Homo sapiens: one gene and its partners. The protein of the gene in region 4 interacts with the protein of the main gene of each other region in a biochemical or structural test. Each region holds a gene or a part of one and is shown on either strand. Other genes may lie near its edges.

Region 1 (8,338 bases), about 15 Mb from region 4:
CCAGTTATCTTAGAAAGGATAGCTAAAGAATGCCATTTTCAAACTTTAATAATAATATATCAAAAAATAGTCCTTGAATAGTTGCCCTAACCACATAGACTTCATTGTAAGCTTAGCCAATATGTACACTCCATAGTTAATAATTCCCTTTGCTCATCATCTTTCCTTTCATATTTATACTACAGAAGGCTCCAGATCATGTGGCTTTCTTTAGAAAAGAAACAACTCAATGCCAACCACTGCCAAAAGATAAAGTATGCAGGAAGCAGCAAATCAAGTCCCCTAAAATATGTTTTTTAATTAAAATATGTTAAAAGAACCATGGAGCCACAAACCACTAATCACCTGCTTGTGGTCCCTGGGGAATTATTTCGTTGACTTCCACAAAATTAGGATCACTGAGGAGGTAGTAACATTTATCATCTATGATTGGATGGATTTCCAATAGGCATTGAATGAATGGAGCCTATATCCTGTTCCACACAAACAAAACGTAGTTTACTATGACCCATTCTGCTGAATATTTGTTTACTCTTGCTTTACACAAAGTAGAGAAGTGCCTTTGAAAAGTTGCCATGGCCATGCTTTTTCTGAGCAGCAGACTAAAACACTTTAGCAATATAGAAATGTACAGCCACACGAGTGCAAATATATGTTTTCTTCCTTTCCAGAAATGTGTTTGGGTGGATGACTCTGTGTGTGTGTGAGACACACTAGTTCAGAAGAAATATGATTTTAACTAGATGTTTGGTAGCACATTCTCAGAGTCCACTAATGTTTCAACGAAGAGCTGCCATGACAAATTTGGGGTGCCTTTTATGAGGTTCCTTATCTTTCCAAGGTTATTGTGGTAGATGTACAGAGGCTGGCAATCTCTAGAGATGAGTTAAGTTGAAATAATAATTATATACCACACCTTCAGAATAAGAGCAATTCAGAGGTGAAATTCTGCCATGCAATACCAGAAACATGAATGTATATTGCCAAAAAGACTGTCAACTAAGTTGGAAGGCAACTGATAGCAAATTGATTTTTGGTTAAACTCCTATTTGCCTTTCTAAGGTCACCGAACTATTAAGATAATAAGGCTTAAAAACATTTAAGTAGGAGCTATGGGTAGAAATAAATGTTAATTTCATTTAGCTATTTAAGCCAGTGGGAACACCTGTCCAATTTCTCTTGCAAAAGATCTGGTGAAAGACAACTGTATCCATAGTATAATTCATACTAATTCATACCAGTGCTAAGATAACATTGTTCATTAGATAAATTTGGCAAACCCAGAGCAATAGTGCTAATTCAGCTCCAGCACAAGTCTTTGTTGCAGTTCTCATTTTGGTTTAGGCAGCCTGGATAAGCTTATCACAGAGCTTTGAACTGACATTCTTGGATGGCACAATAGACCATATTACCAGGAGAATCATTCATGAGCATCAAAAAACGTTACAACCTTCAAAGAAGATACTTTAGTGCCATGGTTTGCAAGGCAAGAAGTGAAAAGAAAGAGCATCCAATTCTCTATGCAACACTGAAATCTAATCAGAATGTGTGCAGATGCATTTTTAAGAAAGCTATATGAAGTTGAGCTGGAGAAATACAGTACCTCTACAGGCAAGATATTTTTTCTGAAGAAGATAATCCACATGAGCTTTTAATTGAAAAGTGCATAAATAACACTCTGTCTTGCCTTGTTATTCAAAGATTAAATCAATTTTGAATTAATGAAAATGATTTAATCTGAGAGTGTTAGCAATCTCAATTTATTTAGGCCTGGATTTAAAGGGCTAGCTTGAGAGCCTTTTGCAAACAAGACTCAGCTCCATAACAAAATCATACCCAACCTCTCTTTTAAGGCTATCTTCTAAAATCTGTGGGTTTTGACTCTAGAATTCTTCACTCCCCCAAATCACATTAACAATGTTTGACATGATGACAGGGAGAGCAAAAAGAATTCATTTCTGCCAAATAAGTACAGGCTACACTGCTGTTTTTATGAAACCTTCCTCCTCTTATTCCATTTTGGTAAATTTCTAAGGAATAGTTAAAATCCGTAGGACAAACCTTGGCTTAAGAGGTGGCCTCTCTGCCATTTTCATGGCTGATTTGAGACCCATTATGCACTCAATTCTGCATTGTGAAATCCAGGCTGGGGACAAATTTCTGCCTGTCATCTTAGGAAAGGCCAGGAGTTTTGCACCATCCTATAGTGTGAAAACAGAAAATCAAAGCCTGCATAGAGCTGCTTGCTTCTTTCCTGATCAGCTTGCTGCTTTTTGGAGACAATCTTGGCTGTCACAGTGTCAGACTGGGAAGGGTAATTTAGCAGAATAAAATATAGTTTAAATAGCATCTCTCCAGGGAAAGTTCCTCCTTACACTCAATATTGAATATGCGAAAAGATCATCAGCAAATAATCATTTGATACTTGGCTAAAATCCATTGGACAGGGAAAGCATTTAGGGAGCACAAAATTCTTTTTTAACCTGATAAGACCCCGAATCAGGAGGCAAGAGGCCCGGATATTTTCCTTATATTTTTCATTCTGTTGCAATGACATTCTCATACAACTACAGTTTATGGACCAAATTTGCTGCCCTCCCCATCCCAATAATATGATGTAAACTGCAGAGATAAAAATACCTTATGAGAATTTTTACAATTTTAAACAGTTCACTGAAAATGTCTGTATGGATAACTCTGTTAATGACCTCTCCTGTCTAATGTCAATTTCAGAAAACAAGTTTCCATTGTAAATGTTTAATCAGTGTAGTCCCAGGAACCCAGAACAGAAAACCTTATCTTCTCGCCCAACTTATTTGCTCTGCAAGCTCTTTCCTAGCTCCATCTCAGCTCCCTGCAAACACTTTAGGCTTTTCTCTCTCAAAGGAGCTGGGAGCTCTGTAGGTTCTGAGCTAGGCAGCAGCCCTGTGGTTTGATTCCATTAGTCTGAGCCCAGATCCACTGCAAGCAAACTGCAGCATTTCTGCTTGCAAAACATTGGCAACCAGGTTCTAGAACCGCCACATACACTGGCTGCACATATTCTTTAATGCTGTTCTGCCCAAACCTTGCCTGAAGCCAGTCAACCATAGCAGAAAGCATCCTACCTTCCATCATGGTGGCAGAATTGCATTCCTTAATTTCCAAGGAGTCTGAAAAAACACAGGAGGATACGATTCCAGGTCCCAGCTAAGTCCTCACCACGCCGCTGCTGAGGTCTATTCCGTCCGCTGTCAAAGCCAAAGGAGATAAGTGTTAAGCCAAAAGACAGGCCATGGATGCTGCTGGTGCTTCTTCACCTACAGGCAGGCTACCAAGAAGATGCTGAGAGAAAGGGAGAGGAACGGCAAGCTGGCCGAGCTGCACCGCCTGCGCTGCCTCGGCCAATCCCTTCAGCTTTGGACCGCGTCACATGGTAGCCAGCCTGCATCTCCTGACACAATACCCCCGGAGAGCACACAGAACCTATTTCCCGTCCCCATTCCCCTCCACCCCCATCGCCTCCCGCTTGTCACCAAATACACAGCCCCTTCCCCACCTGGTGACGCACTTCCCCCGCCCCTCCTCGTCGTCTCCTTAAGCTTACAGAAGCGGCTGGGTGCCCGAGATTAGTTATCAAGGGCTGCCACCTTAACAGGGGACTCTGGCGTGAAAGCAGCACCTAAGTGGCTCGCTGCGGAGGGGGTTCTTTTCTTTTTCTTTCTTTCTTTCTTTTTTTGTTTTTTTAAGAAAAACTTAATAATTCCGTGCAGCCGGAAATCTTAGCAACACACTTCTAAGCTCCCATTCCGGTGTCCTTTTACCCTGAAGGAATTCCAAATGTCAGTGTCTGTGGCCTCCGTGCACATCTGTGCGTCTCTCTCTCTCTCCGTCTCTCTTTCTCCCCTCCCATCCTTCATTCAAGAGAGAAAAATCAATCCGACTGACGTCACATCATAAACATCCCCAAAAGGATGATGCAGAAGAAATTTCACCCCAGCTGCCTTCGTGAGAGCCAGGGAATTAATTGCGCATGACATGCTGAAGGGCTGGGAACTGTCATTAAAACAAAGAAACAAAAGAACCCACCCGAGTGGGGCTCTGGAATCAAACTGGCAACGCTCGAGATCGTTTCTGGGGCGGGAGGCTGGAAAGGGGAGCAGGCAGGGAGCGGAAGCCTGAGCCCGACCAAAGACAGCTGTGCACGCCGGCTCCCTCCCACTCCAACCTGGGCTCGCCGTCCGGGCTACAGACGGGACCCTGCGGGGCGCCCTTCGACGACCGAGTTCGAGTCCCGCCGCCACCGCGTCCTCCCCGCCGAGCGCACACGGGAGCGGCCTCGCTTCCCCAGGTGGGGAGCTTTTCTCGCAACCGACTGGGGCTGCAGCTGCCAACTGCAGTCTCTGTAGGAAACAAACTTTCTCCTAAATGACACGTTTCTCCGCGACGCGCCTCCTGCATCTGGAGTCGCCTTCAAGCCTATTCATTCACCCAAGTGGAAACCTGGAGGGAGGCAGTTGTGCCTGGTTGTGGCGGAGCCCAGGGTTTTGAAGCTGCCAGGAATGGGATCTGGGGGCTGTGTAGTTGCCTAAGTGGGAAGTTGTGTCACTGGGCCCGGTTGGGTTCAGTCTGTCACCTGACTGCTCTCCAGAGACCATGGAGCCTTTCAGAAGGGCCCAGCCCTGGGGGATCTACGACCCTTGGTTCCCTTCAAGAAAGCTCAGACAGCGAAGGAAGAAAAGGGCAGGGCAGCCTATGAGAGAGAGAAGGCAGAGAAAAAGGAAAGGAGATGGGAGGAAAGGGAACGCCTTCTTTAGAACTCAGGAAAAACAACATCAGAAGTGGGCATTTCTCCCTGTATAATCTCACAGTATGACCAGGAGAAAAGCTGTTACAATAGAGAGCAATTGTGAGCATCCAATGAAAATGTACTCAAAATAACTGGAAGAAGATGCATGGTATGATCAGGGTTGAGCCTGTAATGTATTATTAATCATTTCTATTAGCAATATACTCATGAACTTTTTCTATTGCTCAGCCCTGGACATGGCCTAGCTCTTTCTACCAAAGCAAATATGACGTACTGGTGACTGACTGAAGTAGCATATTAATAGTTGAAAAGCAAAACACAGCTCCTTAGCAATTTAGAAGTTTTGAAAAACCCATTGTTCTCCCTAAGGACACATACTTCAGTGGCCTCTAAATTTTAAAATGAAATTCTTCAGGGAGATACAAATACTTGTGACTTTTTTCTTATGTCTCTAAGACAGTTAAATTTTAAAAGGGGAATGAATTCCTAAGTAAAACCTGCCTTGAGTACAACTTACACTGCTCTGAAAACTGGAGGGGTATTATTGCAAAAAGGATTGATTTGTGTGTGTGTGTGTGCATGTGTGTGTGTGTTTAGCAAATGTTTTGTAATGATTAAGAACATTGATGGGTATTCGTGTCAAATAGATGGGCACCAAGTTTTGTTTGTGCCACATAATGAGCTCTGTGACTCTGAGCAATTTATGTAATTCTCTGTGCCTCACAGTTTTCTTATCCTGAAATGGAGAGAATAATAATGCCAAGTTAATTGAGCTATAAATGGTAATAATAACAAACCTGTATTAATGGCTTACTATGTGCCAGACAGTATTCAAATACTCTGCTAGTAAATTACTTAGCATTTTGTCTGGAGCATAATAAGACCTGCATGTTAGCTTTTTAGTATTAGTATTATTACTACCAAAGGGCTGGCAGATGCATCAAAGAAGTTTGCAGCCAACTGGGAGTTGTACCAAATGCACAGAGAACAAGTTAGTGAAAGACCAGGTGATGCATCCAAAGATGTAACATGTTGGAGATTTCTGAAAGGCTGCTAAGTAGGAAATCAAAATCTAATGAGGTTAATTAGGAAAGACTTTTTTTTTTTTTTTACAGAGGTGAAATTTCAGAGTTCAGAACTTAATTGGAATGGGCTTGAAGTGGTAGTTCTAAAGAATATAGGGAGTTGTAAGTAAGAAAAAAGTATCATGTAAAATCTGGAGGTGAGTGCAAGCACTGAGGTGCAGGAGTGGGGGCCATTGTTAGGATGTAAGGGAAAGGTGGAGAAACCCAGGCTGCCTGCCTTCTTCCTCCCAATGTAAGTTTTACAGTGTGTTAGAGCAATCCTCTCAGATAGGTTTGGTATGGGTACACTTCAAGTTTTTTTAGACTTGCAGCAACTATCTAGAGACAGCAAGTCAATGGAAAGATTCTTTTGGTCAATGACTATTTATAGGAAAAGCAGAAGTTTGTAGATATTGTCAGAAAGGGATGTGTATTTCAAGGTGGTAAAGCTAATCCCAAAGGCTAAACTTCACCGCAACTTCATCAGTTGTGTGTATTTTATCCTTTAAAAAGAAGATGCTATTACCAATAGCATATCCAATAGAACATCCAATGAATGAAGTTCTGTTTCAATAAAATTTGCTCAAATATGTAATCAAAAGAGATTATCCTAATTGTGGTGTTTTCTCATAGGTTTTTTTCTTTTTATTTTCTTCTTCTTCTTTTTTTTTTTTTTTTTTTTTTTTTTTGAGACAGTCTCACTCTGTTGCCCAGGCTGTAGTGCAGTGGTGAGATCTTGGCTCATTACAGCCTCCACCTCCTGGGTTCAAGCTATTCTCCTGCCTCAGCCAACTGAGTAGCTGGGATTACAGTCATGCCCCACCATGTCCACCTGATTTTTTTTTTTTTTTTTTAGTAGAAAGGGGTTTCACCATGTTGGCCAGGCTGGTCTCGGTCTCCCGACCTCAAGTGATCCACTAGCCTCGGCCTCCCAAAGTGCTGGGATTACAGGTGTGGGTCACCATGCCTGGCCTCTCATAGGTTTTTGAAAAAAAAATTGTTTTGATCAAGAACAAAGACAATACTTTAGGTTGTGGTTCAAATTTTATCACTTCATCGTATAATTTTTGCTTGCCAGCAAGGGCAAAGGAGAATATCTAGCCTCCAAAACCATGGAATACTTTTTGCAATTCTGAAATGAAAGTCAAATGGTATATGGAAAAGATTGGGTAAATAACTGACTTGCATCAAAGTGCAAGAATTGCTCAGGAGTTCAGCTCAGGATGTGAATGTCAACCCAGATCATACCAGGCTCTGATATGGTACTTATGACTGGTCCAAGACCAAAAACTAAATTGCTGAAGTCACTAGACATTCAACATTTTTTCTAAAATAACATTTGTATGGTAGTAATGGCTGATTACATAGTGTTTCAGAATGAAATCTTATTATATTCCTACTATAAAAGCTGAGCTTCTTCACTATCTCCCAATTTTAGGTTGAAGGGGAAATTTGTTTATATTTTAGAAAGAGAAAGAAGACAATGAGAATTGAGTCACAAAGAAAGGAGGAAAGAAAATTAGCATTAAAATATGGATCCAGATTTGTGTATGTGTTTGTGTATCTCCAAGGTAGTGCTCTTAACATGACAATTGACTCTGCCCCTTTTGCTATCCCCACTGAGGTAATTCAGTGAATGTAGATGGAAAAATATGTTGCCCAAGTCCTGGAAATTGGCAAGACTGAAAAATTGGAATTCCATGAGATGATATAGATGAAAAAGAGATACATATATTTGTGTGTGTGTGGGTTCCCATAGTTACTCTATTCCTGGCTGAAATAAAAGAACTCCAACTTCAACTAACATGGGCAAAAATGGAATTTATTGAGGTAGCTCATAGAATTATAGCAAGAACTGAACAGCTGAGGGAAAGCAAGAACCAGGACAATCCAGGAAATTTTGTTACCTGAACCAAGTACTCAGAACTCTCTCTGTCTCTTCCAGCATGTCATCTCCTTTTCTCTTACTAATTTTTCTCCACATGATCAGGCCTGACCATTAGCATCCTCTAAGCTCACCTCTTCACAGATTTACTAGGCTAGATCTCCTTCAAAAAACTTCCAGGGAAGGACTGTGGTTGACCTGGCTTGGATCATTGTTCACTTTTCAAACCAGTCACTGGGGGCCATGTTGATGAGTTCTCATGATAGATTTTTTTTAAACCAAAACTTACATTGGACTGTCATATGCTGACTACTGTGCCTATGTATGTGTGTGTGTGTATATATATATATGTGTATATATATGTGTGTATATATATGTGTATATATATATGTGTATATATATATGTGTATATATATGTGTGTATATATGTGTGTATATATATGTGTATATATATGTGTGTGTGTGTGTGTGTGTATACTATATATATATACACACAAGTTTCTATGGCAAACAGAACCCATAATATGATTGTATCCAGAGAGAAACCAGCAGAACCTGTAGTCATGCTCCTGTTTCCCTGGGGGGAAGACTCTATGTGCT
Region 2 (7,515 bases), on a different chromosome or scaffold from region 4:
ACCCTTGTTCCTTTTACTCCAGATACCTATATTAGTTTCTTCTCCTTAGCCCAGCTCTCAATAACATTCAGTTTGGTGTAGACAAGCACCCTCCCCTGACCTACAATATAATTATATCCTTTTTAGGACTGGACAGCCATGCCTATGGTGTTGGTACTATTTTTTTTTTTTTTTTTTTTTTTTGAGATGGGGTCTCGCTCTTGTCACCCAGGCTGGAGTGCAATGGTGTGATCTCGGCTCACTGCAACCTCCGGCTCCCAGGTTCAAGCAATTCTCCTGCCTCAGCCTCCCGAGTAGCTGAGATTATAGGTGCCTGCCACCATGCCCGGCTAACTTTTGTATTTTTAGTAGAGACGAGGTTTCACCATGTTGGCTAGGCTGGTCTCGAACTCCTGACCTCTGGTGATCCGCCTGCCTCAGCCTCCCTGTTGGGATTACAGATGTGAGCCACCGCACCCAGCCGGTGTTGGTACTGTTTACCTAGAGTTTGTCTAAAAGACTGCCTTTGCTTTTTTGGTGGCAAAAAAATTTTTTTTTTCACCTAGAAACTGGGAGCCCTCTAAAGGCAGGGAAAGGAAACTGAAATATTCAATTTTGCACACTTAGTGCCTTGTAGGCTGGCAGAATCAGCAGAATGTAACGGGTACTATATTCAGGAGGACCTGAGTTTAAATCCTGTCTGTAAGATTTGGGCAATTTACTTATCCTCTCTGAGCCTCTTTTTTTTTTTTCATCTGTAACACCTACCTCACAGGCTTGTTGTGGGGATTAAATGAAATAATGCATGAATACCTACCACAATGTGGCAAGCAATGTGTAAGTGCTCAATAAATGGTGCCTATTATTACCGGTATTATAAATGTTTGTTAGATGACATGAAAAGTCATTTGGTACACATGACTATGAAGGTTTATTAAAAAGAAAAAGAAAAAGACCCTTGGAGAAAAAGTGTGTAGTTCTTCCAGTAGAAGCAGGGCACTATCTCTGGAGTAAAACTTCCGCTGAGCTCTCTTTCAAAAGAAATGGAGAAACAGCAATTATAGCAGCTCAAATTCTACAAGTCTGTAACTTAAGTTACATAAATTCTTTGCTGACCTCTGAGTCAATATCCACTATTTAGTCAGTATCTCTGAAAACAACTTTTAACTCTTCAATGCCACAAAGGCAAATTTTAAGACACTTGTTATAGAAGATGAACTAAAGAGCTCAAAGGAGTGCCTTTTTCTTTATTAGCCTCTTTGACAGGGCAGAGACTAGGTGAGTCCAGGGCTTCTCAACATTGGCACCACTGACATTTTGGGCTGGATAATCCTTTGTTGTGGGTGCTGTCGTCTACACTGAAGGATGTTTAGTGGCATTCTTGGCATCTAACCACAAGCCAGTAACACCCCCAACCCCCAACTTGTAAAGCCCCAAAATGTCTCCAGACAGTGAAAGACAAACTTTGCCCCAGTTGAGAACCACTACACTAAAGAAAGCATAACCTTTGAACCAATTCTGATGACTACTGCTTTTGGGAAACTGGATGGGTATGCTGATCCTTAACAGTCAAGTGGGAAATAAGGCAGTAGGTTGGGACTACAGAAATTCCTTATAGAATGGGGTGAAAGATGGGCACATGCAGAATGACAAACACAGACATCTTAGAAAACAGGAAGGGCACAAAGACATCGTCGAATGGAGAAATCAATGAATCTAAGACATCAAATAGAGAAATTAATGGGTCTGACCAGGCCTTGGGAAGCTCAGGATGCCAACTTACAGTTAGTGAGCAGTGTACTAAAAGTACTGGTTGTAAAGAGAACAGCTGAGCAGGTCAGAGGGCACCAACCTTGGAAGGTAGGAGATTGTGGTGCCACCACTGTCACTGGTTTGGTCATCGGAGCAGATGAGAAGGGGTCCTCAGGTGTGCTGAAGGCATTGGTGATCTGTGAGCACAGGGAGCTGATGCTCTCTGCCTCCCCTTCTACTTCTGGCACTGCAAGGCAAACAGAAAATGGCTCCAGACAGAAAAATGGAATAATCCTGAAATTTGACAGTATGATGCAAGCTGGCACTTTATACTGTATCTCCTGCTTATGTAAGAAAAGGCTCAATTAACTGTATGGCAGGGCTACAAAACCAGTTTCAAAAAATTTACTGGCCACAATTTCATTGGCTTTTCAGATGGGAAAGTATAAAATGTCAACAATTAATGTACTAAGGCACATCTTCCTCCCTTACAAATCCCCAAATTTCTTCATTTCTTCTTCTTATAACACTGTTGAGGATCTGTCCTTTTTGTGCCAAGATGTTCAGCTAGCCAGATCTTTGTAGAAGACATTTGCAACCTGTATGCCTTCCAACGTGTTCTCAAGACTGTGATCTGAATTAGGTTCTGGAGCCTTTAGTAATTCTGTCAGGAAAATGGGTTCAAGTCTGGGCACTAGTGGATGCTTAGTGCTTTTCTCTGTAACAAACTATGACAATGTCATCAATCTCATTTTTCTCCAAAGTCTCCAGTACTAAGCATATGATCTATGATAACATGAAAAAGTGAGCAGAGGTGTAGGACGCTAGGGCCTTTATTCTTAATACTGACTCTAGGATACTTCTGTATCACTGAGGAAGCTAATTATGTGTGCTAAAGCTCTGTTTGCTCATCTGTAAAGAGAATAATAGTTTTTATTCCCTGTCTGCCCTAGAAGGAGACTGAACTGAAATGAGGTACCTCAGCTGAGAACTGAAAAGACCCTCCGTAATCATCTAGTCCAACTATTCTTTAGGCCTAGTTTCATCTGTCAGATGAACTTAACTCTCTGTACTTTTATACCATCAGTAGGAATGGCCTATTGAGACAGTTTCCTCATATTTTGTTATAGCAATGGCTTGACATGTCTCAGAGGGAAGTAAAATAGAGCCCAACAAAAGCACTGACCAGATCTAATACTTTAGCTACAGATTTTATGACGAGGATAGACCTATAGAGGCTGGCATAGCTGTACAGAGGCCACACAAAGGCCTGTGAGACGGTTCTGAAAGGTAATGAATACTTGTGAACAAGTCCACTGTCTGTGATGAACAACAGATCTTAGATGTACACGAAAGACCTGTCTAGAGTTTCCTCCTTATGGAGCCAACCAGCCAGAAGGACAATGAGCACATATCCATTTCTTCTGCTGGTAATGCTATGTGTTTCTAAGGCCTCTTTAATTAATTCCCTGCTGGGTCCCAATGGCAGAATAAGAATAGAAACTTGAGACCCTTGATGTTTGGGAGCAGGTTGGCTGAAAGGCAGTGAATGCACTTACATCAGGACAAACCACAAATCTTATGGCTTAGGCTAGAAATTCCACAATGGCTCTGCTGCCTGTTTGTTGAAGAGAAATTATGGATTCACATCCCCCTCCACGGACCTTAGTTTTCCCACTATGGGAAATGACAAAAGATACAACTATCAACGAACCTCAGGGAAAGAGGAATGCCTAGTTTAATGGGATTAGTGTCTTCATGGGAAGTGATGAGAATGCTTCAGTGCTCGAGTACCCAGTGAGTCAGGTAGATGCTACATTACCTGCATTTTTAATGGGGAAATCAGTCTTCCTCTGCATAGTGGAAGGCAACTCATTGATGCGTAGGGATAGTTGGCGTTTAAAGGGTGACATCTTCTGGCTAAGAGCAGGAAAACCTCGGAAAGAGCCTTGGCGAGCAAGCTGTTCAATTGGAGCATGCCGGCGTGGGATGGCATGAGGATTGTTCATCTCCAGAGAGGTCGTGGCATCAGAAGTAGGAGAGGTGGGAGAGGATGGGGATGGGGCAGTGTTGCCAGGGGCAACTGATGAACCAACGACTATCTTATCTGTTTCAGCTCAAGAAAATAAAGAGAATGAAGACCTTAGCAATGTCTTCAAATAATTTGCGTTTAGAGAGCTGACAAATTCGAAAGCCCTCTAGGTCCTTTTACCCATTTCCTTCCCAGTGTCTCTTAAAACATAAGTTAGAAGCAGGGTTCGGATCCATTTTTCAGACAGATAAAAGGCTTAGTAATGTACTATATGTCACAAAGCATATCTACTAAGACAGAAATGTTAGATCTTTTATTCTCATTCAGTGATTTATAAATTAAGACTGTGAAAAAGATCTTAAAAACTCAGTTCCTATGAATTCCTAATATGTAGTCTTTTAAAGAATGATTCATGATTTTCAATGCTTGTGTGTTAGGGGAGGAGAACTTTGGGAACTGTAGCATTAGAAAGGTCTAAATAAGCATAAGCTTAACCATATATCTTTGATTAGGTGTCAAAGAATGTCATATATAACAGTCTTTATTTATTTATTTATTTATTTATTTATTGTTTGAGATGCAGTTTTGCTCTTTTTGTCCAGGCTGGAGTGCAATGGCACCATCTTGGCTCACTGCAACCTCCACCTCCCAGGTTCAAGTGATTCTCCTGCCTCAGACTCCCAAGTAGCTGGGATTACAGGTGCACACCACCACGCCCAACTCATTTGGTATTTTTAATACACACGAGGTTTTACCATTGTTGGCCAGGCTGGTCATGAACTCCTGACCTCAGGTGATCCACCTGCCTCCGCCTCTCAAGGTGCTGGGATTACAGGTATGAGCCACCACGCCCGACCTAAAGCAGTCTTTAAATCATGCATTTGTGGTTCATTTGAATAAAAGCATGCAGTAGTAAAATTTTGAACTGGATTAAATTTGAGTAAATGTAAGACTGTGGGTACCAGTTGAGTCCCATTCTGATTGTGACAAATCTCAACCACCAACTCTCACAATCCTTTGTAGATCTTGGGACTCAATCTCTTTGCAGTTGTTGTGCATAACAATGAATATTATTTGGTGGTATTAAAGAACATGCTTAATTAGTGAATAGTCTGAAGACCACTAAAGCATATTAGATAACAGTAATACAGGTTAAATTTTCTAGTACAGATAGCATGATTTTTCCCCCCTTTGGCTTCCTGGTGCAAATATTTACAAGAAATGAAAAAAAATCACTATCAATAATTTCATTTCAAATAAAAATATGTATGCTTTTTTTTTGGAGGGGGCTTAAGAATTAGAGCTGTTTGGGTCAGTATTAGTCAATGATGCTAACCAAAAGGGCTGGTTTAAGGTCAGGTGCGGTGGCTCACACCTGTAATCCCAGCACTTTGGGAGGCCAAGGCAGGCAGATCACCTGAGGTCAGGAGTTCAAGACCAGCCTGGCCAACATGGCGAAAGTCCATCTCTACTAAAAATACAAACATTAGCTGGGTGTGGTTGCATTCACCTGTAATCCCAGCTACTCAGGAGGCTGAGGCAGGAGAATCGCTTGAGCCCAGGAGGTGAAGGCGGCAGTCAGCGGAGACTGCGCCACTACATTCCAGCCTGGGCAACAGAACTACACTCTGTCTCAAAAAAAAAAAAAACACCGAAATCAAACCAAAACAACAACAACAAAAATGACTAGTTTAGAACTAAAAGGTTATAGTAAAAAAAATTATCATATATATATATTTGTTTGTTTTTAAGAGACAGGGTTTTGCTGTTACCCAGGCTGGAGGAGTGCAGTGGTATGATCACAGCTCACTGTAACCTTGTACTCCTGGGCTCCAGCAATCCTCTGGTCTCAGCCTCCCAAGCAGCTAGGATTACGGATGTGCACCACCAAATATGGCAATTTTTTTTTTTTTTTTTTTTTTTTTTTTTTTTTAAGGGATAGAGTCTATGTTGCACAGTCTGGTCACAAACTCCTGGCCTCAAGTGATGTTTCCTCCTCAGCCTCCTAAAGTATTGAGATTACAGCTGTAAGCCACTATACCTGGCCTCAAAATTATATTAATGTCTATTAGTTAACTTGAATTGTTTGTGCTTGTCTTGTTGGTTTTAACCCTACTTATATACAAGAATTCAAAAGTATTTTCAAGCCCTATCATTTAGTTGTAAAATATACCCAACTCACATTTATAGACTGCCAACTAACTTGAATGTTTGTACAGGCATTTCTGCTGTGATGCCATGTGTACCTAAATAAAACTCACACTCTATAAAATCACACACTAAATTAAATTAACAGGGCTATAGAAAAAAAGAGTTATAGGCTTACCTCTCAAAATCTATAGACTTTTGTGACTAGAAAGCACTAAAAAACAGCAATAATATCATATAAACAGTATTACTGTTAAATCTCTCTGCTAGCATCATAGTCCGTGGATGCTTTGCAGCCTTAAGCCCTGGGACCTCTGCTGCTTCCTTTAAGATGCAGGTACTTGATTCATTTGCTTCTCAAAGAGATCAGATACATCAGAATTAAAAAGGTATTTCAGGATGGGAGGAAGGGGGTAAGAGATGTCTCTGCAGCTTCTTCAACTGCACTCTGATTCCTCAGATAGCTTACTATAATGGAGTAAATATTTTTGAAGCCATTAAACTAGCCACTCTAAAGGAAGCGGTTTTTAAGATTTTCAACTTTGTTATAAGGTTTTATATTGCTAAGGGTTCTCTTTGATTATGAGAAAATTTACCCCTGGTAGCTTCAAAATAATACCTTGTTGGGAAAAACTGCATTCCATAAATACACACTGTAGAACAGATTGTACCTTTCTTGGCATCTTGCATTTGTTTCATGATCTCCTCTCTTTCTGCTTGTTCAGTGGCTGTTGTGACACGGAATGATCCTTCTCTTGTAAAAGTGGTCCGACTAGCATCAAAAGTAGCAGTCACTCCACATTCCTTCTCCCGCTTCTGCTTGCGCTCTAAACAGGCTGCAAAAGCACAGCCTACTGCATGGCTCAACCTTTCACCCTGTAAGAGCAGATTTTAAAAGCTTTTCAGAATTACACTACTAACAATTACATACAAATAAGTCTTTTGTTTTGTTTTGTTTTTGAGACAGAGTCTTACTGTTACCCAGGCTGGAGTGCAGTGGCGCAGTCTCTGCTCACTGCAACCTCTGCCTCCGGGCTCAAATACTTCTCGTGCCTCAGCCTCCTGAGTAGCTGGGACTACAATCACGCACCACCACACCTGGCTAATTTTTGTATTTTTAGTAGAGATGGGGTTTTGCTATGTTGGGCAGGCTGGTCTCCAACTCCTGGCCTCAAGTGGTCTACCCAATTCAGCCTCCCAAAGTGCTGGGATTACAGGCATGAGCCACCACACTCGGCCCAAATGTCTGTTTTTATGAAAGCAAGATGTTGCAAATTCCAGCTTAAAATTGTTTTAATAGATTAGTATGCCATATTAATTTAAATGAATAAATTTTCTAAGGTAGTGCTTATGATGGTTCAATTCACTGTTACAAGCCTTGGGGTAAAGTGATAACCAGCAACCTGTGCTTTTGTAAGCAGCCATGGAGAACTCTTTATCACTTAGGCTCTGTCATGTCAGCCCTGGCCAACAGCTTAGAAGACTCTATGCAAGGTTTCAAGCCTTGACATGCAAGCTTCTAGTTGCCCTTTGGGGAAGCAGTGGGAATATTTACCAGCCACTTCTAAGAAACTACTGGAAAGGCAAGGCAAATTTCAGGAGCT
Region 3 (7,515 bases), on a different chromosome or scaffold from region 4:
CAAAATATTGGGCTCAAGCGATCCTCCCATTTTGGCATCCCAAAGTGCTGGGATTACAGGTGTGCGCCACGACGCCCATCCAAGAAGGTTTTTTTTTGGTTTTTTTGTTTTTTGTTTTTTGTTTTGAGATGGAGTCTTGCTCTTGTCCCCCAGGGTGGAGTGCAATGGCACGATCTCTCTTCGCTCTCCATAGCCACTGCAACCTCTGCCTCCTGGGTTCAGGCAATTCTCCTGCCTCAGCCTCCTGAGTAGCTGGGATTACAGGCACCCGCCACCACACCCAGCTAAGTTTTTGTATTTTTAGTAGAGACGCGGTTTCACTATGTTGGCCAGGCTAGTCTCGAACTCCTGACCTCGTGATCCACCCGCCTTGGCCTCCCAAAGTGCTGGGATTACAGGCGTGAGCCACCGCGCCCGGCCAAAGTTATTTTTTATTTTTATTTTTTTGAGACGGCATCTCACTCTGTCACCCAGGCTGGAGCGCAGTGGTGCAATCTCGGCTCACTGCAACCTCTGCCTCCTGGGTTGGAGCAATACTCTTGCCGCAGCCTTCTGAGTAGCTGGGATTACAGGTGTGTGCCACCACGCCCGGCTAATTTTTGTATATTTAGTAGAGACGGGGTTTTGCCATGTTGGCCAGGCTGGTCTTGAACTCCTGACCTCAGGTGATCCACCTACCTCGGCCTCCCAGAGTGTTGGGATTACAGGCATGAGCCACCGCGCCCGGCCATTATTTTTTTAAATGGAGAAAAACAACAGAAAAAAAAAAAAACAGGTAAGAGGATGAAACTGATGGCTACGGAGAGCAAAGAGAGATGGGGTGTTTATTACAGCCTCATAGAATCTTAAGACTTTTATACTATGTAAGTGTAAAACTTTGATATCTGTTTTTAAATTTATGTGACTAAACATGCCAACAAAGAAACGGAGTGCTGTCCAGAGTGGGGCTGCCCTGGGAAGGGCAGGCCAGGGTGGCCTGTACCTGTCAGGGGCTGCTGCTTGGCTGCGTCCCAGACCTTCACAGTGGTGCCTGCTGCGCTCACCAGAATGCCGTCAGAGGTGGGGTGGAACTGCAGTACCTCCACTGGGAGGTCCTCGGGGCCCAGCACCACCCCGGGTGCTGAGGGCAGGGCCTGGCCAGGCCCTGGCAGTCGCCAGAGTTTTACCTGCAAGAAAGACCAAGTCCGTGAGCACAGGGCTGAGGGCCTCACTGCCTTGAGTCAGCTGCCGTGACCCCAGTGAGGTCCCGTGTTGGAACTAGGCTGCTCCAGGAGACCACACACCTTGGCCTTGGGAGGAGCGCCCACCCGCCTCAGCTTGCTTGGGCCAGGGGCTGCATACCCCACATCCGAGAAAGGAGGGAGGGAATCTCAGCTCCTAGACCACACGGTGTGGTCCCAGAGTTGGGGAAGTGGCTCTACTGTTTCTGGCAGCATCCCCACCTGCTGTCCTCGGGCTCCAGGTCAGGTCAGAGCCACGGCTCCAAGCAAGCCCTTGGGAGCCAGTGTGGGACCAGGAATTCAGACCAGCCCCGCAGCCCTGGGGAGTGGGGTGGGGCTGGACTGGGAGGCAGCAGAGCCCTGTGGGGATGGCGCTGGGGCTCAGAAGGCCCTGGACTACGGGCTGGGACATAGAGCAGCTCTTCCAACTGGCTCCACTCACCGTCCTGTCAGCCGAGCCTGTGGCCAGGAGGAAGTCATCAAAGGGCGAGAAGTCCAAGTCGGTGACTAGGTCTGTGGGAGAGGAATGGCTGAACCCACCGGAATGTCCTGTTTCCAACCCAGTATGAAGCAAAGCCCAGGGCTTCCGAGGTGACACTTTTGTGTGCACACAGAAACAGGCTACAAGTCTACAAGGGCCCTCTGGACACCATGGGGGCAAATGCCACAGGCCCCTCCTGCGACATACGTCCCCGAGGGCCCTGCTGACCCAGGGTGGCCAAGGGCTCTGGCATCAGGAGGTTGGCAGGAAATGGGCAGGAAGCCGCTTGAGTCACCAGGCACCTGCAGGAACGCAGCTGCCCAGCCCGACCCCTCCTAGGGCAGCACAGCCCACTGCTCCTTCAGTCGTGGAAGGTCCCCAGGACTCAACTAAGAAATTGCTTTTTGGTTAAGCAAGCCGGAGTTGGCTTTAGTTCTTTGCAACCAAAGAACCTGAATGGTGGCCGGGCATGGTGGCTCATGCCTGTAATACCAATACTTTGGGAAGCCAAGGTGGGCAGATCACTTGGGCTCAAGAGTTCAAGACCAGCCTGGGCAACACGGTGAAACCCCGTCTCTACAAAAAATATAAAAATTAGTTGGGTGTGGTGGCGGGCGCCTATAGTCCCAGCTACTCAGGAGGCTGAGGCAGGAGAATTGCTTGAACTCAGGAGGCAGAAGTTGGAGTGAGCAGAGATCACACCACTGCATTCCAGCCTGGGCAGCAGAGCCAGACCTTGTCTCAAAAATTAAATACTAAGAACTTGAACGGCTCAGCTCCAGAGGTGGGGAGGGGTAGGTGGGGTGCACAGAGTGAGCCAGACCCCAGAGGGAAATGCGGTGGGTGGTTGGGGAGGTAGAGACTAGGCATGGAGGGTGGCGGGGTTTCGGGGTGTGAACAGGACGAGAGGTATCACCAGAGCTGGGAGCACAGCGACCACCTGCTGCTGTCTGCCTCCCAACAGGGCTGAGCAGGACTGTCTTCCTCCCGGCCTCAGGAGACAGGGAAAAGATAGGACGGACGTGCACAGGCACATCTTGGGATAGCCCTGGCCTGGAATCCCAGCTGGCAGGACCACAACATTCCTGGGCCTAAAGCCACAGAACCCCTGCTGCCCTCACTCTGGGGTGTGCTTGCTGGGCCCTGCAGGGCAAAGCAGGTCCCTGGGCAGGTGTAGCAGCTGGCACAGGCGGGCTGGCATCTCAGGCGTGAATGAGATGTGATGACATAAGCAATCTGAGTGCTCAGCATGTGCTGGCACCACAGATGCCCAGGGGTTGACACGCAGGGACCTCACTGAATCCTCATAAGGATGCAGCAGGTGGCACTGCAGCAGCATCCCCTACTGGAGGATGAGGACGCCAAAACCCAGAGAGGGTGAGTAACTGCCCCAAGTCACGCGGCTAAGAGACAGGGCCAGCTTCAGAACCTGTGCTGCTCAGCATGACATGCTGCTGCCTTTTCCCACTGGAGCGGGCCCCAGCTGCCGCCCCACAGCCTGGACATCAGAAACGCACCCAGAAGTTGCTCACCCTCTGCTCCCCTGGCTGCTGGGCGGAAGGGCAAGAGTGGCCCTGAGCTGAGAGGCTGAAGGGGCCTCTGAAGGCAGGGCAACAGCCAGAGCCCCACCTGGCCATTTCTCCCGACACCGGCACCTCTGAGGCAGAAGGGCACCTGGTGCCTCTAGGGCAGGTTCCAGGGGTGCTGGAGCTCACCTTCCCATGAGCAGTTTCCCGGCAGGGCTGCTCATGCAGGCAAGGCTCTGAACAGTTGCAGCCACAGTGAGGCTATGGACTTGCCTACAGGACCCTGGTCCAGCTTCTACTTGAAGAGCCCTAGTAGCAGAGGGCTCACCACCTTGCAAGCATCACCAACTTGGGCTAGCTCCCTCATAGATAAAAAGCATCAAAAAGTCAAACATGAAGCCAGGTACATTGGCTCATGCCTATAATCTCAGCACTTTGGGAGGCCAAGGTGGGAAGATCACTTGAGGCTAGGAGTTCAGGACCAGCCTGGGCAACACAGCAAAACCCCATCTCCACAAAACATAAAAAAATCAGCTGGGCATGGTGGTGTGTGCCTATAGTCCCAGCTACTAGGGAGGCTGAGGATAGACGATCCCTTGAGCCCAGGAGTTCAAGACTGCAGTGAACTATGATTGCACCACCACACTCCAGCCTGGATGACAGAGACAGAGACCCTGTCTCTAAAAAGACAAACCCAAACACAGGCTCCTATAGACCTGGGTTCTGATTCTGGCCCTGCCATAACAATGGGTAAGTTCCTAACCTTGCAGGAGTCTCAGTTTTCATAGCTATAAAATGGGTTGTTTTAAAACCTACTTCAAAGAGATCTGAGATTAGATGAGAACAGACTTGTTATACAAGCTGCCACACACATGTATCTCTAAAACAACATGCTACGTGAAAGATGCCAGATTCCAAAGACCGTGTATTGTGCGATTCCATTTGCGTGAGATGCGCAAAAGAGGCCCCTCTATAGAGGAGAGGCCAGTAAACGTCTCCTGCGAAGGGCAAGGCGGTAAATATTCTAGGATTTCAGGGCTCAACAGTCTCGGTCACAACTCAACTCTGCAGTTGTTGCAAGAAAGCAACCACAGACTATACATCAATGAATGGGCGTGGCAGCGTTCCAATAAAACTATTTACAAAAACAGGCAGCCAGCTGGATCTGGCCGTGACAGTAGTTTGCAGACCTCTGCCACAGAGGCAGGAAGCAGATCAGCTGTTGCCTGAGGCTGTGGTATTGGAGGTGGAAATGGATTAACTGCAAAGGGGCATGCGGGATCTTTTGGGGATGATGGAAACGTTCCAAAACTGGATGGCAGTGCACATGACTCGGTCACTTTAATAAGAATCATCAGGCTCTTTACTTAAAACAGGTAATCTGACGGGGCCCCAAAACTTTGGGAGGCCAAGGCGGGAGGATAGCTCGAGGCCAGGAGTTCAAGACCAGGCTGGGCAACATAACAAGACCCCATTTTACAAAAAATTTTTAAAAATTAGCTGGAGGGGTGGTGGCATAAACCTGTGGTCCTGACAACTTGGGAGGCTGAGGTGGAAGAATTGCTTGAGCCCAGGAGGTCAAGGCTACAGTGAGCCATGATTATGCCACTGCACTCCAGCCTGAGTGACAGAGCAAGACCCTGTCACAAAAACAAACAAAAAACAGGTAACGTTGGCTGGGCCTGGTGGATCACACCTGTAATGCCAGTACTTTGGGAGGTTGACTTGGGAGGATTGCTTGAGCCCAGAAGTTTGAGACCAGCCCGGGCAATATAGCAAGACCTCGTCTCTATATACTTTTTAAAAATTTTTTAAAAAAGTTTAGATGAGAAAACTCAGCTAACGTACTTAGTACAGAGAGCAATCTCCATAAATCTTTACTATTGTTATTAACCACCATCATTATCATATCAGAACCCCTCCACGACCCTGCACACCCAGCCTGAGGACCAGGCATCAACTGCCTTCCCTCACCCGAAGGCCTCCAAACAAGCAGCCAGAAATGCAGGCCAGAGAGACTGGGCCCGCGGCCGCTGCAGCTGGACAGTGAGAGGCGAGGCCAGCTGGGCTGCTCTGCCTCCATCTGAGGCGAGCAAACTGTTCCCTCGAGGCGGACAGCCTGCCAGGCAGGCTGCTGGACGCCCCCAGAAGCAGCTGCGGCACACAAAAGGTCTCTTTGTGAGGGCCCATCTCCACCCCTGCAGCCCAACACAGCGACCTCCTTGGAGGGCCCCGAGCGGCTGGGCTGGGGAGGATGCCTGGTGGAGAGGGGACTCCAGCAGAAGACGGAGGGCTCAGAGCCATCCAACGTGGAGTCCTCGGCAGGGACAGGGAGCCAGCATCAGCCTGGAGCCTGGGGCGGCCACTGCACACCCCGCTCCATCCAGCTCACAACCGGAGCACACAGCTTCCCTCCTCACTGCCCAGGCCGGAATTCTACACCAGGAGGAAGCCTTCTGAGCCCCACTGTCTCTCAGAGAGTGCACAGACAGGGCGACAGGAGGGACCTGGCAAGCCATGCGGCAGTGGGACCAGGTGAGGATGAATTTCTGGCCCTGGAGAGGGAGGTGCAAGTTTCAGGCTTCACCCACTAGTCAGACACCCACTCACCTGAATGGCAGCCCAGGTGGGCCACGCGTCGCTTGTCCTCTCCTTGGCCTTGCAGAGGCACAATGCCCAGTACACCTGTTAAACAAACACGGGGACTCTGACTTCAGGCCCCACAGGGCCACCCACCTCCTTGCCCAGGGATCCCAGAGATGAAATCCAGCAGCTCAGCCTCGGACCTTCCCAGAGCCTCTACCAATCACAAGATCATATCCTCTGCACGTAGCAATGGCCTGTGGGTAGGTTCTGGCCCCATGCATGAGCCATCCATGCCTCAGATGGATACAGAAGACATTAGGCGAGAGGTCCTCTCTTTTTAACACGGGTCATACGAAAGGGGCGTGGGGCTTTCGTATGGGGCTTGCAGCTACCGTCAGCCACTTTTCGCACTTTTACTTGAGAAAGAAGCCAACACCCAAGGTGGCAGAGCTGAGAGACCCAGAGAGGTCAGGGCCGACAGTACATGTGAGCCTTTGGGCACCGATCTGCCTGAAGCCCCTGATCTCTTAGTTAGGCTGAAACATTATCCATTTTTTGCTTAAGCCAGCTTGAGGGTCTGAGTTACCACTAGCAATCAAGAGAGTGCCAACCAACACACGGGCTTTTCAAGCCTTTCTGTTCCTACTGTCCCCAGCCATCCAGGGCCCAAAGATGAGGAGCAGGGAGCACAGAGGGACAGCTGGAAATACAAGCGTCAGTCCCCTCCCAGCCCTCCTGGCCATGCTCTTGCCTGTGGTTTGTACACACATATGTCCTAATCAAAAGCAATCAGATTACTGCGCCTGGACCAGTTTGTGGGGGTCTAAGGTCTGGCATGGGGCTCACCTCTGAGCCCCCCAAAGCAGTTCCGTTCCAAGTCTCCAAATACACCAAGCCTGCCCCTGCTCCCCACCCCATCTATGGTGACGATGACCGAATATGTGAGCAAATATCCACACTCATGGCCATTCCCTACCAGGACGGTCGGAGTTGAAGGCGATCAAGCTGCAGCTTGATTTGATGTGGTTCCTGCATGAAGGGGCGGTTCCTGCTCGAATGTCACTGATCCAGGACTGAAAATCAAGAGTAAAGAAGTATGTGGTGAGAGCCAGGGTTCCACCTCCATGCATGCCTAAAGCAAGAGGTGGGGCATAATCTGGGGAACTCTAGCTCACAGCTGCACCATTCGAGATGCATTCTTTTATTTACTTTTTTTTTCTTTTTGAGACAGGGTCTCACTCTGTCACCCAGGCTAGAGTGCAGTGGCGCGATCTTGGATCACTGCAATCTCTGCCTCTTGGGTTCAAGTGATCCTCCTGCCTCAGCCTCCTGAGTAGCTGGGATTACAGGCGCCCAACACCAAGCCCAGCTAATTTTTGTATTGTTAGTAGAGATGGGGTTTCACCATGTTGGCCAGGCTGGTCTCGAACTCCTGGCCTCAAGTGATCTGCCTGCCTTGGTCTCCCAAAGTGCTGGGATTACAGGCATGAGCCTCCGCCCCCAGCCGTGTTGTGTTACTTCAAATCAAACTCTGTCCCCACTCACGAAGTCCCTTAGGAAATGTAAAATGTGGGCCAGGTGCGGTGGTTCATGCCTGTAATCCCAGCACTTTGGGAGGCTGAGGCAGACAGATCATCCTGAGGTCAGAAGTTCGAAACCAGCCTGGCCAACATGGTGAAACCTTATCTCTACTAAAAATACA
Region 4 (7,515 bases):
TTATGCCTTCCTTCCTTTTTCCAAGCTTGCCAACCAACCCTTCAACTCCCCAGCCACCAAAATAAATTATCTAAATTATTATAGTCTAGCTTCTAGAGATGATAGAATGCTAGAGTACCAAAATGTTAGTTCCAGTTCTGCTTTGGCCACAGCTAACTGTATGGGTTTGGGTTAAATATCCAGGCCTCAGTTTTCTTAACTTTAAAAGAGACTCAACAAACATTTGCTGAGCATTCAGTATGTGCTAGGAATTACTCTAGGTACTGAGGATATATATACTCATGAACAAAAATAGTTAACAATTCTTTGACCTTGGAGACAAAACCTGGAACTTATTTCTGCTAGAGGAGTTTGAATTAGCTGATCTAAGGACCTTTCCAACTTTTAAGATCCTGTTTTATAGACAGTGTTCTATGATTTATAGACCTAGTGGACTTTCTCTGGGTTCTTTAGTGCTTTACAGCCTTAAATGTTTTCTAATTCAGTTGTCTTTACTAGGTGTTCTGTTTACTTCTTGTCAATGAGAAGTAAAACCTGAGGGAGAAAGATCTTGATTTTTGCTTCTGTTGGTAGATTAGAAAAAAAGCATGTAATACTTAAAAAAAAAAAGTTTCCAATAGTCAGTTTTACTCCCTAACGCCCATATCCCTAATAATAATAATACTGTTAACTTCCCTTTGGGAATTACTATATGCCAGGAATTTTACTACACTTAGAATCTAACGATATGTTTTACAAATTAGAGAAGCTAGTAAGTAAGCTAGTAAGTGGTGAATCTACGATTTGAACCAAGGTCTGTAGGACTTCAAAAGCTATTTCACTGTTCTTCTCTATGTACTAGATGCTTGGCCTATCCAACGCTCCCTTACATTTTTTGTTCTTTTTTTTCGGCATATGCCATTGTCTTAAGTAGTAAGCCTCTTGAGGATATAAGCCATGGTTTTTGCCTCTGAATCTCTAGTGCCTTTGATAATATCTTGGATGATACAATTGTGTGTTCAAAGTTAGTGCTATTGATGATAAAGGTTTTATTTTACTGAGATAGGATTTGAATATTTAAAATAGTCTTTTAGCAATTCAGCTTTATACTGGTTTTCTTGCTTTAGTTTAGCAAGAATTTTTTTTTTTTTTTGTTTTGTTTTGAGACAGGATCACACTCTGTCACCCATGTTGGAGTACAGTGGCATGATCAGGCTCACTGCATCCTCAACCTTGTGGGCTCAAGGGATCCTCCCATTTCAGCCTCCTGAGTAGCTGGGACTACAAGTGTGCATCGCCATGCCCAGCTAATTTTTAAAATTTTTTTGTAGAGACAGGGACTCACTCACTATGTTGTCAGATTCTTTTTTTTTTTTAAAGTAATAAAAAAGCCCTTAAGTAGGGACTTAATTTTAAAAATCCTAGTATATAAATGGTATAACAACAGTTCTAATGCTTTTTTTGTTAAATTACAAGAGTGATATAACTGTATTACAGAAAACTTGGAAATTAGAGGAAAACATCTCCCATAATTTCACAGTTTGTAGTGTTTATTTTCAGTTTCATTTTTTAAACAAGTACGCAGTACAAGTGCTAATAAACATATCATCTTAGTAGTCTGGTTTAACAATTATGACAGTAAATACAGGTTAGTTTGAAAATGACAACATGTTCTCAGAAGCAGAAAAGTGATATTGTTCTCAACATGACAGATATTTGAGTTCCTACAATGGGAAAGGCACATTAATGATGTTTTTCTTTATTGCCTATAATTATGGTTCGATATACTCAGGAAATCTCTTGAGAGAGATATCTAACCCTTCTCAAAGATGGCTTGAAATGTTCAGCACTTGGGAGAGGTTGTCATAGTTAAAATTAATTAGGAACAAGTTCATCCAATAGCAAGTCTCTCAGGAATAATCTAAGAGTGCATTCCTTTGTTTTCACTCTATTTGCAGACAGAATGCTAGTAACAGACTAACGTGTAATAGAAAAAGATTGAGTATCATTAGCAACGAATCATAGTTCAGAATCTCTGCAATCTCTAATAGTGTGATTTTAAAGGCCTAATCTAAGATATTTTACTTGTTCTTTAGGGAATTACAAAAAGCACTTTATATACTTGTTTGTGAGTTTGGGGCTTAATAAAATTGGGAGCAGAAAAGATAACTATTGGGTACTGGGCTTAATACCTATGACACAAGTCCACTGATGTAATAAACCTTCACATGTACCCTTGAACCTAAAATAAAAGTTTTTAAAAAAAAAATCAGTACTCTGGAAACCAAAACCAAGTAAATGGCCTGAGAGAGATCTGGTTAGTTGGAGAACTGGTAGAAATAATAAACGAAAAGTTACTCCAGGCAGAGTTCATTAGGCAAATTCATATGCTGGAGTTTCATTTTTAAAGCAGTTGAATCAACAAGGTATGCCTTCATTAATTATATTTATTAGGTGTTTTTAATAATCTGAGGAATCTTGTAAATTGAATGCTGTATTACAGTAAAGTGAACTTTTTTTATTTAGACAAATGATCTAACCCAGTTAAGCATGCGTAGAAGAAAGCCTGGAAGAAAAAAAACACTAAAATTTTATAGTAGCATGGTTGTAGTTTTTATCTACCTTGTTTTCAACAGTGAGAATGTATTCCTTCTGTAATCAACTGATTTAGCTTTTCTCTATGGCATTTTTGAGAATTTATTCATTTAAATTGAATACACAATAACTACGTGTAAAGTAAAGCTTTGTGTTCTAAGATTGTGTCTACACTTAGTTTTCATCCTAAACATTTAGAGAAATTGATTAGAGGAATGATAATAATTATATTAATTGATTTGGACAATTCAGTTAGAGGACTAATTTATAATTTTTTGTGCTGCTTTATAACTTAACAAAGCGTAACCTATGAACTAAGCTATTATTATCATCATTTCAAATTGGAGGATACTGAGGCTCAGAATTTGGGACTTAGGTTTTATAGTTAGTAAATTAAAAAACCAATATAAATTCATGGTTAAAAAAATTCATACAATGCTAGTGAAGTCTTCTTTCTGCTTTAGGCCCTCATTTGCTTTCCCAGAGGCAGCCATTCTTGCCAGTTTCTTGTGTGAATTTCCAGTAATAGTCTGTGTATATGCGAATAAATATATATGTATACTGTATATGTATATTCTTTTGTGTAAGCTGTTTATTGTTTCACAGTTTGTTGTTATATTATTTTTAGCTTAACTGATTTAGGAGATTGCTCTATAACATCACATATAGATCTCCCTTATTGTTTTCAAAACCTCAGGGTATTTCTATATGTGAACTTACTGTTATTTATTTTACTGGCCACCTAATGCTGGACATTTATTTTGTTTTCAATCTTTTGTTACAACTATGCTGCAGTGGATACTCTTTTACATGTTTTTGTGCACATGTGTGAGCATATGGATTAATTTCTAGTAGGTGTAATTTTTGGGCCAGAGGATACTTTTAATCTGCATAGATACTGCTAATTTGGGGTAGGCATAGTGGCTCAGGCCTATAATTCCAGTGCTTTGGGAGGCTGAGGCGGAAGGATTGATTGAAGCCAAGAGTTCAAGGCCTGGGTAACATAGTGAAATCCATCTGGGACAAAAAAAAAATTTTTTTTAATTAGCTGGGCATGGTGGTGTGTGCCCGTAGTCCTAGCAGGCTACAGGTGAGCTATGATTAGCAGGTTACAGTGAGCTATAATTGCACCACTGCACTCCAGCCTAGGTGACAGAGCTAAGACCCTGTCTCCAAAAAAAAAAAAAAAAAAAAAAGATATTGCTCATTTACATTCAGAAACACTGTAGCAGCACACATGTTTGAGAGTGTCATTTCCTCCACAGCTTGATCAACATGTATATTATTGTCAGTCCAGTAATCAGAAAGATTTCAAACAATTTCATTGTTTTAGTTTGTTATTTCTTTATGGGTAAGGCTGAACTTATTTTTTTTTCCTTTGAAACCATTTGTATTTCTTTTTTTATAAACTGCTTTAGTCTTTTACCTGTTCTCTTGATGGGCTGTTTGTCTTCTTTCTCACTGATTTGTAAGAACTCTTCTTATATTTAGGAAATTTGCCCTTCTTTGCAAAATCCTTTGCAAAATTTTTTTCTCTGAATTTTTTTTTGTTTTTGGCATTTTTTGATTATGTAGAAATATTTGTTTTATATGTTTAATTTGTCAGTCTTTTCTCTTAGAGCTTCTGCAAAATCTAGATTTTTAAACTTCAGGAGCAGAGGCAGACTAATATAACTGCAAGAGCACACCTGTTCTGCCCCTGAGTAGTTCTGTGATCTTGGGCAAATTACTTAACCTCTTAAGTGCACTCATTTGCATATTAGAAATAAACTACTGAGACTTCTTGGGTATTATTGAGACCTCTTAAGCATGTTGTGATTACAAAATGAACTGGTGACTTATTTTCTTTAGCTACTCCTGTAGTTTCCCAATTTGTTAAAAGCTGGCCTTGTACCCTGCCTCATATACTCTGCTTTCCTATCACATAAATGTGAACTTCTGAATATTTTGTGCAAAAGTAGGATAGAAATGAGGTAGAAGAAACTCATTTTTGTGATATAAATAAGGCTTTCAAATGAATCAGAGGTGCAATTAAAAAATAAAAGTTGGGCTCTTTTTAAAACTTGTTTTTATGTGGTAAAAATATACAAAGAAAAGTAAGCCTCACTTCCTCCCTCCTTTAAACTGGGGATTATTACAATGGGAATATAACAGTACCAGGAGTTTTTCATCTGAAATAATCAAACTGCTTATTCCTTACTAAATCTGCAATAAGAATACAAATTTGACCAAGAATGCTAGGATAAGAACATATTTTTTGGAGGAAGACGTTTATATTACAGTACTTTATAGTTTTTTAGATCATGGTTTCTCAGCCTTGGCACTTTGAGATTTTGGGCTGGAGAATTTCTTGTTGTGGGAGGCTGTTCTGTGCATTGTAGGGTGTTTTGCAGCATCCTTATCCATTAGACGTAACACCTTCACCAGTTGCAGCAATCAGAAATATCTCCAGACACTGACAAATATTTCCTAGAGGATTAAATTGCCTCTGGTTTAGAATCACTGGTTTATTTATTTATTTTTATTTTAAAGTTTTAGTACTTTTGAGAGAGAGTCTCGCTCTGTCGTCCAGGCTGGAGTGCAGTGGTGTGATCTTGGCTCACTGCAACCTCCACCCCTGGGTTCAAGCAATTCTCGTGCCTCAGCCTCCCGAGTAGCTGGGATTACAGGCGTGCATCACCACGCCTGGCTAATTTTTTTTGTATTTTTAGTACAGATGGATTTCACCATGTTTTCCAGGCTGGTCTCTATCTCCCGACCTCAAGTGATCCTCCTGCCTTGGCCTCCCAAAGTATTGAGATTATAGTGTGAGCCACTGCGCCCGGCCAAATCACTGGTTTAGATATATACTTATTTATTTATTATTATTTTTTGAGGCGGAGGTCTGGCTCTGTCGCTCAGGCTGGAGTGCAGTGGTGTGATCTCGGCTCACTGTAACCTCTGCCTCCCGAGTTCAAATGATTCTCCTGCCTCAGCCTCCCAAGTAGCTGGGATTATAGGCGCCCACCGCCACACCTGGCTAATTTTTGTGTTTTTAGTAGAGACGGGGTTTCACCATGTTGGCCAGGCTGGTCTCGAACTCCTGACCTCAGGTGATCCTCCCTCCTCAGCCTCCCAAATTGCTTGGGATTACAGGCGTGAGCCATCGTGCCCGGCCTAGATACATACTTTCTGTGGTCCATTAGGACATACAAGATATACTTTCTAGGGGTGAGGACAGGGGAAAGAGTTTATCTTCATATTTTTATTCTTAAGCCTGCCATGAGCCATGATTGACTCCTTGTGCATAAATATTGAGCTTAAAAAACTTAAATGAGAAGGCAACCTGAAATTGTGAACTTAATTTTATGTGTGATTTCTGTGCCTTTTTTAGTGTGATCTCCTCCCTCTTCCGGCTCCACTGTAGTTTGGAAACTTAGTGTGGTCTTCTTTTAGTTGTGGAACAGTTCTATCTAGTGGGCTAAGTATCAATACAGAGATCCTGGAAGGAAAACATTCTTATGCCACTGTTGAGAAGGAAGAGGACTGATGCTTCTAGAACACCTAATAAATACTAAATACTTTTAGATGATCTACATACATTATTTCACTTAATCTTCATAGCCTTTCTACAAGTAGGCATTAATCTTCTGTATTACTTGCTCACGGTTGTATTTTAAGTGGGAGAGTTGAGACTTGAACCCAGGCACATCTGTTCTCCAAGTACATTTGCTATGCTGCTTCCTATAGTCATTGATGATATTTCAGTCAAATTTTGGGATAAGAATGAACATTCATGTGATCTTACATTCCTCTATTGTTATGTAAAAGAAATTATCCAGTGGTGTGTGTGTGCGTGTGTTTGTGTGTATTGGGGAGGAGGTCAATAGTGGGATAATAACAATAATACTTACTGAGCACACTTACGTGTCATGTGCTATTTTCAATAATCTTTACAACCTGATGAACCTTTCAGTATTCTTTACAACTTGGTAATCCTTATATCCCTGTTTTACAAAAACAAAACAAAATAAAAAACTGGGACACAGAGGTGAAGTAATTTGTTCAAGGTCAAACTGCTGCTAAGTGGTAGAGCCAGAATTGTAACCCAGTAGTCTAAGCAACTCGGATATTGATTGAATGAGTCTGCATTTTTAAGGGCAAAATGGCTCTGACAGAGCTTATTGTGGTACCATTCCTTGGTTATAGCTGAACATATGTTGTAGGCTACTACATCTTCCTATGTGAAAATCAACTTATCATTGCATACACCACATCTCTAGAAAGTGATTGTTGCACGAAGTTATAGTGGAAAGTTTTTGTAGACATAGTAGAAGGTAGTTTTTCATTTTGCAACCTCCAGATTTATTGCTCATGAAAATCTAAGCTTGTCTAGGTTAGTGTACATCATACCAATATTTACTTTTAAGCTAATATTCTCTCAGACATGGTTATTTGGACTTGGAGTTTCTACAGTATTGTATTGCTAAAGATAAAATGTATCAGAGACTCCCTATAAAATAGACTTTTATTGACTAAAACCTGGAACCATTAGCTGTAATGATTTCTGATCCTCAGATGAACATTTTTGAGAACTAGCATAAAATAATGAGAGAGATCTTGGGCTCTGAAGTTAGAATGTCTTAGGTAAATTGATAGATTTTAGTTATATGAGCCATTAATTTTTATGAAATGTTGCACTTAATTAGAATTTTGATGGATCATTTATACTAAGGATTATTGATAACTTCATTCCATCTTTTGTTCTGTAGGTACAACATAGATATAGCATTATGCATATATAAAAAATATGAAATTATATGCATTAAAGGTGCTTCCAGTATTGATGGTTGATCCTCTGTTTCAGAAAACATTTACTAGATGCCTCCTGTGTGTCACTACTCTAGTAAGCCTTGGACATACAGAATAAGACCATGACATTTGCTCTGAAGTAGCTTTTGG

Evidence for each region.
Region 1: the proteins of EPS15 (region 4) and SGIP1 form a complex in vitro, tested with the Homo sapiens proteins (2 studies listed by BioGRID, with this or other methods).
Region 2: the proteins of EPS15 (region 4) and NUMB form a complex in vitro, tested with the Homo sapiens proteins (2 studies listed by BioGRID and IntAct, with this or other methods).
Region 3: the proteins of EPS15 (region 4) and CORO7 form a complex in vitro, tested with the Homo sapiens proteins (one study listed by BioGRID).

What each region holds. Positions count from the first base shown.
Region 1 is NC_000001.11:66,529,138-66,537,475, reverse strand, and holds the start of SGIP1 (SH3-containing GRB2-like protein 3-interacting protein 1), read right to left. Parts: upstream 3,324-8,338; 5' UTR 3,118-3,323; coding exon 3,108-3,117; intron 1-3,107.
Region 2 is NC_000014.9:73,280,528-73,288,042, forward strand, and holds part of NUMB (protein numb homolog), read right to left. Parts: intron 6,788-7,515; coding exon 6,583-6,787; intron 3,848-6,582; coding exon 3,554-3,847; intron 1,979-3,553; coding exon 1,832-1,978; intron 1-1,831. UniProt on the Homo sapiens protein: Regulates clathrin-mediated receptor endocytosis. Plays a role in the process of neurogenesis.
Region 3 is NC_000016.10:4,406,519-4,414,033, forward strand, and holds part of CORO7 (coronin-7), read right to left. Parts: intron 6,887-7,515; coding exon 6,790-6,886; intron 5,913-6,789; coding exon 5,838-5,912; intron 1,734-5,837; coding exon 1,663-1,733; intron 1,167-1,662; coding exon 983-1,166; intron 1-982. Other genes in the region: CORO7-PAM16 protein, read right to left, coding at 983-1,166, 1,663-1,733, 5,838-5,912, 6,790-6,886. UniProt on the Homo sapiens protein: F-actin regulator involved in anterograde Golgi to endosome transport: upon ubiquitination via 'Lys-33'-linked ubiquitin chains by the BCR(KLHL20) E3 ubiquitin ligase complex, interacts with EPS15 and localizes to the trans-Golgi network, where it promotes actin polymerization, thereby facilitating post-Golgi trafficking.
Region 4 is NC_000001.11:51,509,099-51,516,613, reverse strand, and holds part of EPS15 (epidermal growth factor receptor substrate 15), read left to right. Parts: intron 1-7,515. UniProt on the Homo sapiens protein: Involved in cell growth regulation. May be involved in the regulation of mitogenic signals and control of cell proliferation. Involved in the internalization of ligand-inducible receptors of the receptor tyrosine kinase (RTK) type, in particular EGFR.